Homo sapiens: one gene and its partners. The protein of the gene in region 3 purifies or fractionates together with the protein of the main gene of each other region. This does not show direct contact. Each region holds a gene or a part of one and is shown on either strand. Other genes may lie near its edges.

Evidence for each region.
Region 1: the proteins of ANKRD54 (region 3) and KIFBP purify together in Homo sapiens (affinity purification with mass spectrometry; one large-scale study listed by BioGRID and IntAct). This does not show direct contact.
Region 2: the proteins of ANKRD54 (region 3) and HNRNPUL2 purify together in Homo sapiens (affinity purification with mass spectrometry; one large-scale study listed by BioGRID and IntAct). This does not show direct contact.
Region 4: the proteins of ANKRD54 (region 3) and PSME3IP1 purify together in Homo sapiens (affinity purification with mass spectrometry; one large-scale study listed by BioGRID and IntAct). This does not show direct contact.

The regions. Positions count from the first base shown.
Region 1 is NC_000010.11:68,987,620-68,991,602, reverse strand, and holds the start of KIFBP (KIF-binding protein), read right to left. Parts: upstream 2,801-3,983; 5' UTR 2,771-2,800; coding exon 2,345-2,770; intron 476-2,344; exon of another isoform or gene 1-475. UniProt on the Homo sapiens protein: Activator of KIF1B plus-end-directed microtubule motor activity. Required for organization of axonal microtubules, and axonal outgrowth and maintenance during peripheral and central nervous system development.
Region 2 is NC_000011.10:62,720,958-62,724,457, forward strand, and holds part of HNRNPUL2 (heterogeneous nuclear ribonucleoprotein U-like protein 2), read right to left. Parts: intron 3,470-3,500; coding exon 3,334-3,469; intron 3,034-3,333; coding exon 2,957-3,033; intron 2,770-2,956; coding exon 2,630-2,769; intron 1,947-2,629; coding exon 1,856-1,946; intron 1,757-1,855; coding exon 1,644-1,756; intron 1,424-1,643; coding exon 1,160-1,423; intron 986-1,159; coding exon 863-985; intron 467-862; coding exon 338-466; intron 1-337.
Region 3 is NC_000022.11:37,834,335-37,837,834, forward strand, and holds part of ANKRD54 (ankyrin repeat domain-containing protein 54), read right to left. Parts: intron 1-3,500. UniProt on the Homo sapiens protein: Plays an important role in regulating intracellular signaling events associated with erythroid terminal differentiation.
Region 4 is NC_000016.10:57,162,040-57,165,539, forward strand, and holds part of PSME3IP1 (PSME3-interacting protein), read right to left. Parts: intron 2,027-3,500; coding exon 1,962-2,026; intron 1-1,961. UniProt on the Homo sapiens protein: Promotes the association of the proteasome activator complex subunit PSME3 with the 20S proteasome and regulates its activity.

The DNA of each region.
Region 1 (3,983 bases), on a different chromosome or scaffold from region 3:
GTCAGCTAGCTTTTTGTACTGCACGTGATGACCTCCAGCACTTGCTGCCAATGCCTTAGCTTTGTCAAGTGCTTCTGGACCAGTGCATGTCTCCAATGTTATTCATTTCTTAGTTCGGAGACATCGACATCCTCATTGATAACTTGCTCTGGTTTCTGGACAGATAATTGCAATCTTTTTTGTAGGAAAGAAATATTCTGTCTTGCAATATCCAGAAACTTGTGTATACACCGATCAACACCAGTTCCAATTTCTTCCTGATTGCTGCCATTGACATAGTCCTGACTTAACGGAGAGGCAAAGCAAGTCTGGAAAGATGACTCCATGTCATCCACCAAAGTACTGTTAGAAGGTCTCAGAGGCCCTGGAGCTGCTGGTAAGTAAAGGAAGCCTGGCCCCAGAGCCCCGGTGGTGGTTGGGGCCCCGATGGCTGCCCAAAGAACATACTGCCTAGCAAAGCAGCCATGCCTGGAATAATTTTTTTTTCTTATTTTTAGTAGCGATGAGGTGTCACTATGTGCCCAGGTTGGTCTTGAACTCCTAAGCTCGAGTGATCATCTCATCCCAGCCTCCCAAAGTGCTAGGATTACAAGTGTGAGCCACCACATCCGGCCTTTTCTACATAATTCTAAATATGGCTTATAGTCTTCTTCCTCCCTCTTCATATTGCCAATTTTTGTTAATATAAATTATTATTTTTAATAATTGTGTACTGTTCTTCTGTTTGGATGTAACGGAATTTAATCATATTCCTACTGACATTTATATTGTTTTCCTTTTCTTTGCTTTTTGAGACAGGGTCTCACTCTGTTGCACAGGCTGGAGTGCAGTGATACAATCTTGGCTCACTGCAGCCTTGACCTCCTGGGCTCAAGCGATCCTCCTGCCTCAGCCCTGCGATTTTCCTTCTTTAATAATCAACACTGCTGTGATAAACATCCATGTTCACCTGTCCCAATATTATTTTAACTTTTTAAAGTATTTTTCTTTTTTTCACCCCTTCTTTTCACAGGTGTTGACCAATATTACTTTAGAATATTGATGTGGATTTTGTTGTTGTTGAGAAAAGGTCTTGCTCTGTCACCCAGACTGCAGTTGCAGTGGCATGATCATGGCTCCTCCAGGGGCTCAAGTGATCCTCCCAGCTCAACCTAGCCTCCCCAGTAGCTAAGACTACAGGCGTGTACCACCATGCCTGGCTAGTTTTGTGGGTTTTTTGTTTTGTTTTGTTTTGTTTAAGAGACAGAGTCTCACTTTGTTGCCCAGGCTGGTCTTGAACTACTGACCTCACGCCATCCTCCCACTTCGGCCTCCCAAAATGCTGGGATTACAGATGGGAGCCACTGTGCCCTGCCCAGATTTATTTAAGAAACCAAGTACCATATAAATGGGAAACAAAAAGTATTATAAGAATTCAAAGGTAGGAGGGAGAGATCAGTTTGGCCCAAAATGGTCCCAAGAAAGTTATTAATACTAAAGGAAGTGATTCTTGAGATAGGTTTTCAAGAATGGGGAAGAATTCCCTAAGATGCAAACAAATGAATTTGGTAAGAAAGGAAGCTGCAGATTTTGGACATTTTATTTTGAATTAAGAATGTATTCCGAGCCAGGCACAGCGGCTCAGGCCTGTAATCCCAGCACTTTGAGAAGGTGAGCCAGAAGGATCACTTGAGTCCAGGAGTTCAAGACCAGCCTGGGCAATATAGTGAGACCCCCATCTCTACAGAAAATTAAAAAAATTACCAAGAATGGTGGCATGCGCCTGTGGTTCCAGCTACTATGAAGGCTGAGGCAGGAGGACTGCTTGAGCCCAAGAGGTGGAAGCTGCAATGAGCTATGATGGTGCCACTTAACTCGAACCTGGGCGACACAGTGAGACCCCATCTCTAAGAAAAAAACAAAAACAAGACAAAACCAAAAAAGAATGTACTCCGGTCATTGTCATTTCCTTGAGACGTTAAGATTTAAATTACTTTGGATTTTCTTAACAGAATGAACAGGAGTTGGACTGGTGGAGAGGAAAGCGCATGACGATGTAGGAGGGTCTCGGACACCAATGCATCGCCACGTCTAAGTGAAGCAGCAGCAAGCGATATTGGTGTGGGCGACGAGGGTGGACACGGAGTCTGGGGACGGCCGACTGTGGGAGATCTAGTTACAAGGCAATAAGTCCATAAGACTGGCTTTTTTGAAGACCACAGACGCTCTTTGGGACTCAGTCCAGAGCTACAAAAACGTGGGGACGAATTGCGCCTTACAACGTCTGCCCTTGGCCTTGGCAGGGGCTCCTCCCCATCCCTCGCCATTTGCCAACAGGGGCCGGCCTGGCCGGGCTCGCTCTCACCTGCGCCTGGATGCAGAGAGAGATGCAGTCGTGCGAGAGCCGGTACCTGCGCAGCAGCCGCAGGCATTTCACCAGGTGCTCCTCCCCCGCCGACAGCTCCTCCGTGTCGATGTGGTTCACCCCGAGGTGGAACTCGATGACTGCCAGCCTCACCGCTCGCTGGGCGACGGGCCCCTCGGGCTCCACCACCTCAGCCGGCAGCCCCAGGGCGTGGTCACCGGCACCCGGGCCGTCCTCGGCCTCAGGCCGCTCATCCTCGTCCTCAGGCGCAGGGCCGAGCAGCGCCTTGACCTCTTCCAGTAGCGCCCGGGCGCTGTATTTGGACTTGTATGGTTCCTTCTCCGGATTTTTATGCAGTTCCACCCGCGACAGAGCGAGCGCCGCCTGGAATTTCTCGCAGACCTCTGCCCACGGAACGTTCGCCATAGCGGCCTCTACTGCCTGGCTTTCCTCAATGTTTGCAGTCGGGACTCCCGCCTTCCTTCTGCTTTGCGACACTTTACTTACGGCTCTCGACACGTTGCGGCCGCTGTGGAATGGGAACCAATATAACCCTCCCGGAGAACCGCAATACGCTCGGCAATGACCAATGGGAAGACGCAGCAATCACCACAGCAACCATTCTCATGGAAATGAAGTTGTCAATGAGCGTGTTCCCACCTCCTTCCCCGCCCCCTGCAGCGGTGAGTTTATCTCCAGATTGACCCTGTGAGGATGGATTTATATAAATGTTTAATATCGGCTTACTTTAACGAAGCATATCGGAATATTGTTTACAAACATAGCTAGCTAACTCTACTCGCGTTGATATGAACTGAAAGGCAAAAACCTTTAGACATTAAGTGTATAGCCCAGCCTGTCACTGGATAAAACTTTTTTTAAAAAAGGCCAGGCGCAGTGGCTCATATCTGCAATCCTAACATTTTGGGATGCCAGTAACATTTTGGGATGCCCACTGGAGTGGGCAACATAGCAAGACCCATCTCTACATAATTTTTTTTAAAAAATTAGCCGGGCGTGGTGGCGCGCGACTGTAGTCCCAGCTACCATGGAGGCTGAGGCGGAAGGATGGCTTGAGCCCAAGAGGTGGAGGTTACAGTGAGCGAGACTGCCTCAGAAAAAAAGAAAACACGAGCATTAGAACAAATACCTAATGTATGCGGGGCATAAAACTTAGCTGACAGGTTGATAGGTGCAGCAAACCACCATGGCACATGTATACCTATGTAACAAACCTGCATGTTCTGCACATGTATCCCAGAACTTAAAAGTAAAATAAAAGAAAAAAAATTGAAATGTAGCCAAGAGCTGATTATTATCATTGACACATAATCTCTTGATCGAGAGCCATAAATATACAAAACACTCAGTGATAGACAAATATTTTCACTTCGACCCTGAAATACAGGTTGTAGGAATCTGTACAACTGCCCAAGGTAACAAGAGCTAAGTCCCACAGCTGTGAAAGCCGCCTCATGCCTTTTACCTTCCTAAGTTATCAAGTCAAATGGGGAGGGGTGATAGAAGATTTTAACTATTAAGCACCAGCTGTGTACAGTGCTTTGAGACATACAAAGGAGCATTGATTTTGGGAGCTCATAGACATATGGTTTGAACCTCAGACCAACCAGCTTTCTTA
Region 2 (3,500 bases), on a different chromosome or scaffold from region 3:
ACTACATGACAGGTATTATCCTGTTTTGCTCATCAGGGAAACTGAGGTTCAGAAAGGATAAGGGACTTATCCAAGATCACAAACCAGAATGTGGTGGAGCCAGGAATTCAAATGAGTTCCAACTCTTTCCATTGTCTTTATTACATGTTTTATAGCCTGGGTCCATATATTTTCAAGTAAAAACACTAATTAGGGGTACCTCTGAGTTCAAAAAACATTGCAACCATAACACACAACCAGATGGTCATAATTAGGTAAGCTGACTCTGCTCCTTAATTCAGTCTCTCTTTATATACACATCCCACCTTGACTCTAGGCAATTTTATCAGATTAATACCTGATCAAGAATAAAGTTCCTCTTTGTCCGGGAAGCAATCTGGACCAGCTTACTAAGGCACTGGGAGGCTTGCTGAACTAAAAGGTCTCGGCTTTTGGGGTCCATCTCTGGCTCCTCGAGACCCTTCATCTGATTAGTTTGAGAGGAAGTGAAAAAAAAAAACAAAACACAAGTTATATTGCAAGTTAAAGCCCAAGAGTTATTGGTAAATGTCACCTCTTCAAATACTGAATCTATGATATCACTCTATTCCCATTCTTCAGTGCTGTGAATGTTGTCCATTTCCTGCAGTAGTCATTTCTATCTAGTCTTAACCTGGATGTATTTCAGATCTCATCTGCTTTCAGAAATTTGACAACACAGCAAAGAAAAAAAAAATCAATCCACCTAAAACGCATAGAGAAAAATCTCATTTCTCTATTTCTGGGACCCTTGTTCTCAGACACTTGAGACTAATTCTCCATTAAAGATAGGTTATAAGAGTCTCCAAATACTGTATCCGACAAATCCCCAACAGCAACTTACCCTCATTTGATTGAGCACAGTCTCAGCTCCCAGGACATTGTATCTTTTCTCAGGGTTTTCTTTTGCATATTTCAGTGCCCACTGGGTCTTTCCAGATCCGGGTAGTCCCACCATCAGAATCACCTGCAAAAAACAGAACCAGAAATATAATGAAAAATAAATGAGGGTCATGTTTATCAAAACCAATTTAAGAACATCCTCCCATTCCTGTTTGGTAACGCTCTGAGACCCTGGAGAGCATACGCACCCACCTCTGCAAAGCATACAACCTCAGTGTTCGTATACTGTTTGGCATACCTCACATTCCTCTATGGTCTTGGGAGGGACTGCAGTGCGTACACGCTCCTCAACAGGCACAGCATGAATGAACACAAACTCTTCTGGTGGTGGGAAGAAGGGCTCCTCCTTCTGACCGAAGTTTAATTCTACAACACAATTTTTGCAGAGGACATGGGGTAGAAGGGCCCGGTCTGCCAGGGAATCCTTGCTGATCCAGAATGCCACACCTAGGTCTTCTCCATTCTTGGAGAAGGAAAGTTCTACTTCTTCAGTCTCAAAATTCTACAATGACAAGGGACAAGAGCACTTATTGGCTGACGAGGCTTTGGGTTGATTAAACTTTACAATTTATTCTTTTTTCACACAGACTGCTGCACAAAGTAACTAAGCGAGCCACACACATCACATGCATAAAAGCCAGCAGTTGATGGGAAGCACAAGTGAATTCCCAGTGCCCTCTATCCGCTCCTTGTTATAACCCACAACTTTCAGGAGCACTTACAGCAAAGCAGCCAATAACATCATTCTCCCCAAAAGTCTGGCCAAATTCCTCAAATTGTCCATTTTCTGCCTTGAGTCCTCGTCCATCGAAACCGTAAGAGAATTCATCTTCACCTAGAACAGTCAACAAATTAGTTACCTACAACCGGACTTCCCATAGAGTAAGCAATATGGTAGTAAACACTAATGAGGAACTTAAAGAAATAACTTTACCAAGCTGTGGACGGGAAAAATCAACAGACCACCCAACTCGAAGGAGAGAGACCTCTGTGCAGCCTTCTTTCATTGGGAGATTCTGGGTTACCTGGCCAAGTCAGAAAGGGAACTATTAGATATTGTGACCAACTGAGTAGCAAACTCTGAGTTCGAAGGACAAGATTTTTATACAAACTGAAAACGACATTTACCTCAACTCAACATCAGAATAACAATCACTGAACTTAAAGCCACAGGGATCAATTTCTTGGTTACTGAAACTAAGGTTCTTGTTAAAGCACAGTGCTTTTACCTACCTGCACTAATAAAAGCCTGATTGGACAGAAGTCCAGTATACATAGGTAGTAGCTTAATGAATAAATGAACGGTCTTTTTAAAAAAATATTTCTTCCCCAGCCAGGTGCGGTAGCTCATGCCTGTAATCCCAGCACTTTGGGAGGCCAAGACGGGCGGATCACCTGAGGTCGGGAGTTCAAGACCAGCCCGACCAACATGGAGAAACCCCATCTCTACTAAGAATACAAAATTAGCCAGGTGTGGTGGCGCATGCCTGTAATCCCAGCTCCTCGGGAGGCTGAGGCAGGAGAATCGCTTCAACCCAGGAGGCAGAGGCTGTGGTGAGCCGAGATGGTGCCACTGGACTCCAGCCTGGGTAACAAGAGCGAAACTCCATCTCAAAAAAAAAGAGATAATAATCTTCTTTTCCCCCTCTAAGAACCGTAAGCATCCAGTAATAAATGAATGAATGAATGAATGGTCTTAATGAGCTACCTTTGCCTCAAAGCAGACTTTTCCCTTTGTCACTCCGTAAGTACTCCTTGCCCCAGACCAAAGGGTGGGGAACTTCTCTGAGAAAAGTGGCTGCCCTCCATAGCGGTCTTTGCTCACTTGAAAATGCAGATCCGAGGTATCTGTAAAGAAAGAAGCAATCAGTTTACTCCAATGTCCAATACTTGTAAGCCGCCAACAGAGCATAAGTATACCAGTTGTTGTAGTGGATACAAAGTCTCATAGAATTTATAGGCTATGAAGTTTTAATCTCCAAAATCACTTTTAGGAGATTAGTTAAAAACCACAGTCTGTCTGCCTTATACATACACGTGTCCAGGTTCACAAGAGTTTGATCCTCCTCCTCATCTTTTGCCTCTTCTTCAGGAGGCAGTGGAGACTTTGAGCTATATATGTAAGATAGAAAAGAAACACAATGTAAACAAAGCCCTCTTCTTTGAGGGGTGTGTGTGTATGACATTATGTCCATTTTAAACTGTCAGTGAATATCAAATCCCAGCAGACAGCTTTTTCCAATAAATGAGAAAGGGCAATAGGAGTTTCCATGGTAGATGCAATCTAAAACTCATGCCTATAAAAACCTATTCCATTTTGAATCCACCCTCCTTCCAGTCTCTCCAGTCAATACCAGGTATACCAAAATCAGAGCAGACACTCCCTTCAACGAAAGGGACTGTTTCCCTCACCGGCTGTGGTAAGCCTCCTCTCGGAATTCATAGTAAGCTCGGCCATGTTCATCCTTCTCATCCCGCTGTCTCTTTACCCCCCGCCGCTCACCATCTGAGCCTGCTGGTTTTGACTTTTCACTATCCTGGTCATCTCCTACAAAAACGAGGGAAAGAAAATCAGCAGT
Region 3 (3,500 bases):
CCAGAAGAACATGAACATCTTGGGCAGGCAAAGATTTCTTAAATAGGTCACAAAAATACTAACCATAGGAAAGAAAAGGCCAGGCATGGGAGCTCAGGCCTGTTAATCCCAGCACTTTGGGATGCCGAGGCAGGTGGATCATTTGAGCTCAGGAGTTCAAGACCAGCCTGGGCAACATGGAGAAACCCTTTCTCTATACTAAAAACACAAAAATTAGCTGGGCATAGTGATGGCAGACTTGTAGTCCCAGCTACTTGAGAGGCTGAGGTGGCAGGGCGGCTTGAGCCCAGAAGGTCGAGGTTGCAGTCAGCCGAGATGGTGCCAGTGCACTCCAGCCTAGGCAACAGAGACAGACCCTGTCTCAAAAAAAAAAAAAAAAAAAAAAAAAAAAAAAGAGAAAGGAAAGAAATATTGATAAATTGGATTCATTAAAATTAAGAACATGGCTGGGCACGGTGGCTCATGCCTGTAATCCCAGCACTTTGGGAGGCCAAGGCAGCCAGATCATCTGAGGTCAGGAGTTCAAGACCAGGCTGTTCAACATGTTGAAACTGTCTGTACTAAAAACACAAAAATTAGCTGGGTGTGGTGGCATACCCCTGTAGTCTCAGCTACTTGGGAGGCTGAGGCAGGAGAATTGCTGGAACCTAGGAGGTGGAGGTTCCAGGGAGCCAAGATCATGCCACTGAACTCCAGCCTGGGTGACAGAGCGAGACTCTGTCTCCAAAAAATAAAAAATAAAATAGGCCAGGGCACAGGAGCTCACGCCTGTAATCCCAGCACTTTGGGAGGCCAAGGCGGGTGGATCATCGGAGGTCAGGAGTTCGAGACCAGCCTGACCAACATGGTGAAATCCCATCTCTACTAAAAATAAAAAATTAGGTGGGTGTGGTGACACGCATCTGTAATCCCAGCTACTCAGGAGGCTGAGGTGGGAGAATAGCTTGAACCTGGGGAGCAGAGCTTGCAGTGAGCCAAGATCACACCACTGCACTCCAGCCTAGGCAACAGAGTGAGACTCTGTCTCAAATAAATAAATAAATAAATAAAAATAAAATTAGGAACTTGTGTTCATCAAAGTATACCACTCAGAAAATGAAACAGCAAGCTCAGAAAATCAAGTCATTTATATTTGATAAATGATTTCTAACCAGAATATACAAAGAATTCTTACAAATCAATAAGAAAAAGGCCAGGCGCAGTGGCTCATGCTTGTAATCCCAATACTTTGGGAGGCCAAGGTGACAGGATCGCCTGAGCCCAAGAGTTAGAGAACAGCTGGGTAACATAGCAGGACCACGTCTCTACAAGATGTTTTAAAATTAGCTGGGCTTGGTGGTGTGCACCTGTCGTCCCAGCTACTTGGGAGGCTGAGGCAGGAGGATTGCTTGAGCCTAGGAGATTGAGGCTGCAGTGGGCAGTGATCAGGCCACTGCACGTAAGCCTGGATGACAGAGTGAGACTTTGTCTCAAAAAAAGAAAAAGACAGAAAACTAGTTTTTTTTGTTTGTTTGTTTGTTTTTGAGACAGAGTCTTGCTTTCTCTCCCAGTCTGGAGTGCAGTCACGCGATCTCGGCTCACTGTAAGCTCCGCCTCCCGGCTTCACACCATTCTCCTGCCTCAGCGAGTAGCTGGAACTACAGGCACCCGCCACCACACCCGGCTAAGTTTTTGTATATTTAGTAGAGATGGGGTTTCACCGTGTTAGCCAGGATGGTCTCGATCTCCTGACCTCATGATCCACCCGCCTCGGCCTCCCAAAGTGCTGGGATTACAGGCGTGAGATACCGCGCCCAGGCAAAACTTGTTTTTAAAAAAATGGACAAAAGAGGCCAGGTGCGGTGGCTCACGCCTGTAATCCCAGCGCTATGGGAGGCCGAGGCGGGTGGATCACCTGAGGTCAGGAGTTCGAGACCAGCCTGACCAACATGGAGAAACCCGGTCTCCACTAAAAATACAAAATTAGCCGGGCGTAGTGGCGCATGCCTGTAATCCCAGCTACTTGGGAGGATGAGGCAGGAGAATCACTTTAACCCGGGAGGCAGAGGTTGTGGTTAGCCGAGATCACGCCATTGCACTCCAGCCTGGGCAACAAAGAGTGAAACTCTGTCTCAAAAAAAAAAAAAAAAAAAAAAAAAGGACAAAAGATTTGAACATATAGTTCATAAAAGAGGATGTAAAAATGGTCAATAATTGGACACAGGGAGGGGAACATCACATACCAGGGCCTGTCGGGGGGTGGGGGCCAAGGGGAGGGAGAGCATTAGGACAAATACCTAATGCATGAGGGGCTTAAAACCTAGATGACGGGTTGATGGGTACAGAAAACCACCACGGCACAGGTGTACCTATGTAACGAACCTGCACGTTCTGCACATGCATCCCAGAACTTAAAGTTTAAAAAAAAAAATGGCCCGGGCATGGTGGCTCACACCTGTAATCCCAGCACTTTGGGAGGCCGAGACAGGTGGATCTCCTGAGGTCAGGAGTTTGTGACTAGCCTGGCCAACATGGTGAAACCCTGTCTCTACTAAAAATACAAAAATTAACTGGGTGTGATGATGCGTGCCTATAATCCCAGCTACCCGGGAGGCTGAAGCAGGAGAATTACTCAAACCCAGGAGGTGGAGGTTGCAATGAGCCGAGATCACGCCATTGCACTCCAGCCTGGGCGACAGGCAAGACTCCGTCTCAAAAAAAAAAAAAAAAGGCCAATAAACACATGAAGAGGTGCTCAACGTTACTGGCCATCAGAGAAATGCAAATTAAACCACTATGAGACACCAAAAGGGTTAAGATTAAAGAGAGACAACAGCAAGCACTGGCAGGGACGTAGGGAAAGGTGGAACTCTTACACTGCTGGTGGGGAGTGGGAGTGTGTGTCAGTACATCCCTTTTGGGAAAAGGTTTAGTAGTACCTACTAAAGCTAAATACATGTGTACCCTAGTGACCCAACAATGCCATTCCTAGGTTTATAGAGGATAGATGAGTGTTTACAGCCACAAATCACATATACAAGAATGTTCACAACACTTCATTCATAAAGCTAAAACCTGGAAACACCACAAATGTCCGTCAATAGTAGAATGGATAAATGGGGTATATCACAATGAAATACAAACCAGCATAAGAAAGTACTAACTACAGTCCACCCTCCCTAACTGTGAATACTGTGTCCACAGATTCAATGAACCCTGGACTCAGAACCCGAGGATATGGAGGGCCAACTTCAAAGGACTTGAGCATCCATGGAGTTTGGTATCTGAGTGGGGTCCTGGAACCAATCCCAAGAACACTGAGGGAAGACTGTACTGATATAGGCAGTATTCATGGGTGAATCTCATGGAGATAACTTTGAGTAAAAGTATGCAAGGCTGGTGCAGTGGCTCACGCCTGTAATCCCAGCACTTTGGGAGGCCAAGGCAGGTGGATCACGAGGTCAGGAGTTCAAGACCAGCCTGGCCAACATGGTGAAACCCCATCTCTACTAAAAAATACA
Region 4 (3,500 bases), on a different chromosome or scaffold from region 3:
GATTACAGGCATAGCCAGCAGCCCGACTAATTTTGTATTTTTAGTAGAGACAGGGTTTCTCCATGTTGGTCAGGCTGGTCACAAACTCCCAACCTCAGGTGATCTGCCTGCCTCAGCCTCCCAAAGTGTTGGGATTATAGGCATGAGCCACTGCGCCTGGCCTGTGATTATTAATATAATGGTACTGTAATTGTTAAAACAAAGAAACAAAATAAGAACTTGTATTTGCTAGAGACATATATTAAGAATTATGAATGAAATGATATAATGTCTGGAATTGTCACAAAATATTACAGTTGAGAGATATAAATGAAATAAAATTGGCTATGTGTTAAAAACTGCTGACTGGGTGTGGTGGCTCACACCTGTAATCCCAGCACTTTGGGAGGCCGAGGCAGGTGGATCACTTGAGGCTAGGAGTTCGAGACCAGCCTGGCCAACATGGCGAAATCCCGTCTCTACTAAAAATACAAAAATTAGCTGGGCGTGGTGGCACATGCCTGTAGTCCTAGCTACCTGGGTGGTTGAGGCATGAAAATTGCTTAAACCAGGAAGGCAGAGGCTGCAATGAGCCAAGATAACCCCACTACACTCTATCTTGGGTGATAGAGCAAGACCCTGTCTCAAAAAAAAAAAAAAAAAAAATTGTTGACGGTCTTTCCTGTAGGAGATACCTTACAAAGAAAAAAAAAAAATCAGTGAAGCTTGGTAATGGGGGTTTATTATACTTATTCCAACTTCTGAATATTGCTTAAATTATCCATAATAAAGCATTTAAAAGATACATATTTACAATTGCTTGCACATGCATAGAATAGCTCTTGATGGCTACATAAGAAATGTGGCTGGGCTTGGTGGCTCACTCCTGTAATCCCAGCACTTTGGGAGGCCGAGGCAGGCAGATCACTTGAGGTCAGGAGTGCAAGACCAGCCTGGCCAACATGGTGAAATCCTGTCTCTACTAAAAATACAAAAATTAGCCAGGTGTGGTGGCGCACGCCTGTAATCCCAAATACTCGGGAGGGTGAGGCAGGAGAATTACTTGAGCCCAGGAGGCGGAGGTTGCAGTGAGCTGAGATTGAGCCACTGCACTCCAGCCTGGGTGACAGAGTGAGACTCCATCTCAAAAAAAAGAAAAAAAAAAGTATAATTCTGTTTCCCTCTAAGGAGAACTAGATGGAAGAGATACGGGTAAAAGGCAGGCTCCTTTTTTTTTCCCCCAGACTCTTCTTTTTAAAAGTAGGTTCTAGACCAAAAGGGTAACAGCAACAGACCACCACCACTGGTGCTTAGTAGATGCATATTAAAAAGCATCATCTTTTTTTGAGAGAAATTAATGTAAGCCCTGTTGATCGATGGAATTTAGTTCAGAGTCTCAATCCCACATGGAGTTAGAATAAAACTGAAAACACACTCGAATTTCTCATCCCTAATCCAGCCCCAGTAACATTCACCTTCACTTACAAGTTCTTGCCTCTTAATACAGAGGCAGATTTCATCACATAAAAGTAAAAACCAAAGAAGTATACTCCTTGAGATTGTATTAAGCTTCTAGGCTCAATCCAGTACAACAATGAGCAGGAGCCAGGTATTTACCTCCCACTGGTAGCAAACCAGGTGAAATCAAGAAACCTGACATTTGGGGGAAACAGAAAAACACCTTTTGTGAGCAGAGGTGGTATGACCAGGGCCTGGTAAGCACTCCTGGGAGAGTACTATTTTCATTGATCAGTTTCACTGGTTTCTAATATAATAACTTTTGCAGGTATAAAATCCTGCCTGGTATAAACTCTGGCCTGGTAATAAAATCCTGCCTGGCATAAAAAAGTTGGGTAAATTAAGCATAGGTAGGCTTGCTTGAAGACAGAAATGCATTCATTTGCAGAAGCAATGCATTACAGCCCTTTACTGTGGTTCATGTGTATTCTGAGTACAAGGAAGTAATGAAGGCTGCCACCCACCTTGATTCTTGTCATCTGGCTCAGGGTCCGGTTTCAGTCTTTTCACACTGTTGCCACTCTCTGAGCTGTAACAAAACACATGGTGACTTGAGCCATGTCCAATCTTGTGGATCAAAGCTTAGGGAATCAGGAGCTCCAATAACTATTTATATGGGTCTTAGGCAGTCTCAAGAGGCTGGGATGATAAAAATGAATGAAAAGTATTCATTTCAGATTCTTAATCTCCTTCCAATTGCATCATCAGTCATAAAGACAATTTAAACTCCTGACAAATCCAGGAAATAAAGCACTGTATCAACCATCACTTCAACTTCAGATTCTTGGCCGTCTTTATCACTCAAATTGGTTAGAACCACAGATGGATTTCAAGAATATTTAGACATGTTCATAAATGACAAACATTTAGTAATTACAGATTGAAGAAAACATCTTTAGTGACATGCTAGAGATTCTGAGAGTCACCCACAAGATTTTCACTAAAACAATGTATAAGGAATGTATTTCAATGAAGAAAGAAATGATCCCAGAAGGAAGGGACCCCAGAAGGAAGGGGTGGTGAACAAATAAACTGGCAAATACAAATATAAATCTAAACAAATACTGTATCAAAAAATAATGTCTAGTTTGTGGTGTTCAACAGACCATACTGAAGTCACCTCTAAGACTGGGGACATTACTGTGTGTATGTACTAGTTGGTATTTTCTTGCAGGGAGTACACAGCAGGTTCCATTTAAGACTTATGTGGGAGGCCCGGGTGCGGTGGCTGACGCCTGTAATCCCAGCACGTTGGGAGGCCAAGACGGACGGATCACCTGAGGTCAGGTGTTTGACACCAGCCTGGCCAACATGGTGAAACCCTGTCTCTACAAAAAATACAAAATTAGCCAGGCAAGGTGGTGCATGCCTGTAATCCCAGCTACTTGGGAGGCTGAGGCATGAGAATCGCTTGAACCCGGGAGGCACAGGTGTGCCAAGATTGCGCCATTGCACTCCAGCCTGGGCGACAAGAGTGAAACTCCAGCTCAAAAAAAAAAAAAGAAAAAGAAAAAGAAAAGAAAAAGAAAAGAGAATCAGAGTATACAAAACCACATGCAATTAAGTTGGAAATCAATGACAAAAGAGAAACATATTTTGCAGCCTCTAAGACACTGTTATATATATATATATATATCATCATAAGGTGTTAAAACGTGTGTGGCGAGGGGGAAGGCTTATCTTTCCCCTCACTGAAATATGGTTGTTACCTCAATATGGAGATTTAAAAAATACATTTCTAAATAATTCCTGAGTCAAAGAAGAAATCATAATGGATATTTTAAAATACTTAGAAGGAAATATAAAACTCATATACAATGAAAGTTAAGGAAAATTTATAGCTTCAGATGCTCATAACTAAAAAGACTGCACATTCATGAACTAGGTATCTGACAGTTTTTTCTAACAATAAATAAAAGAATAAACTAGAAGAGAGTAAAGAATATTCCTTTGAAGAAGGTAAGAAATTGCTGCTTGTTTTGGTCTTATGCTTCATGACATAT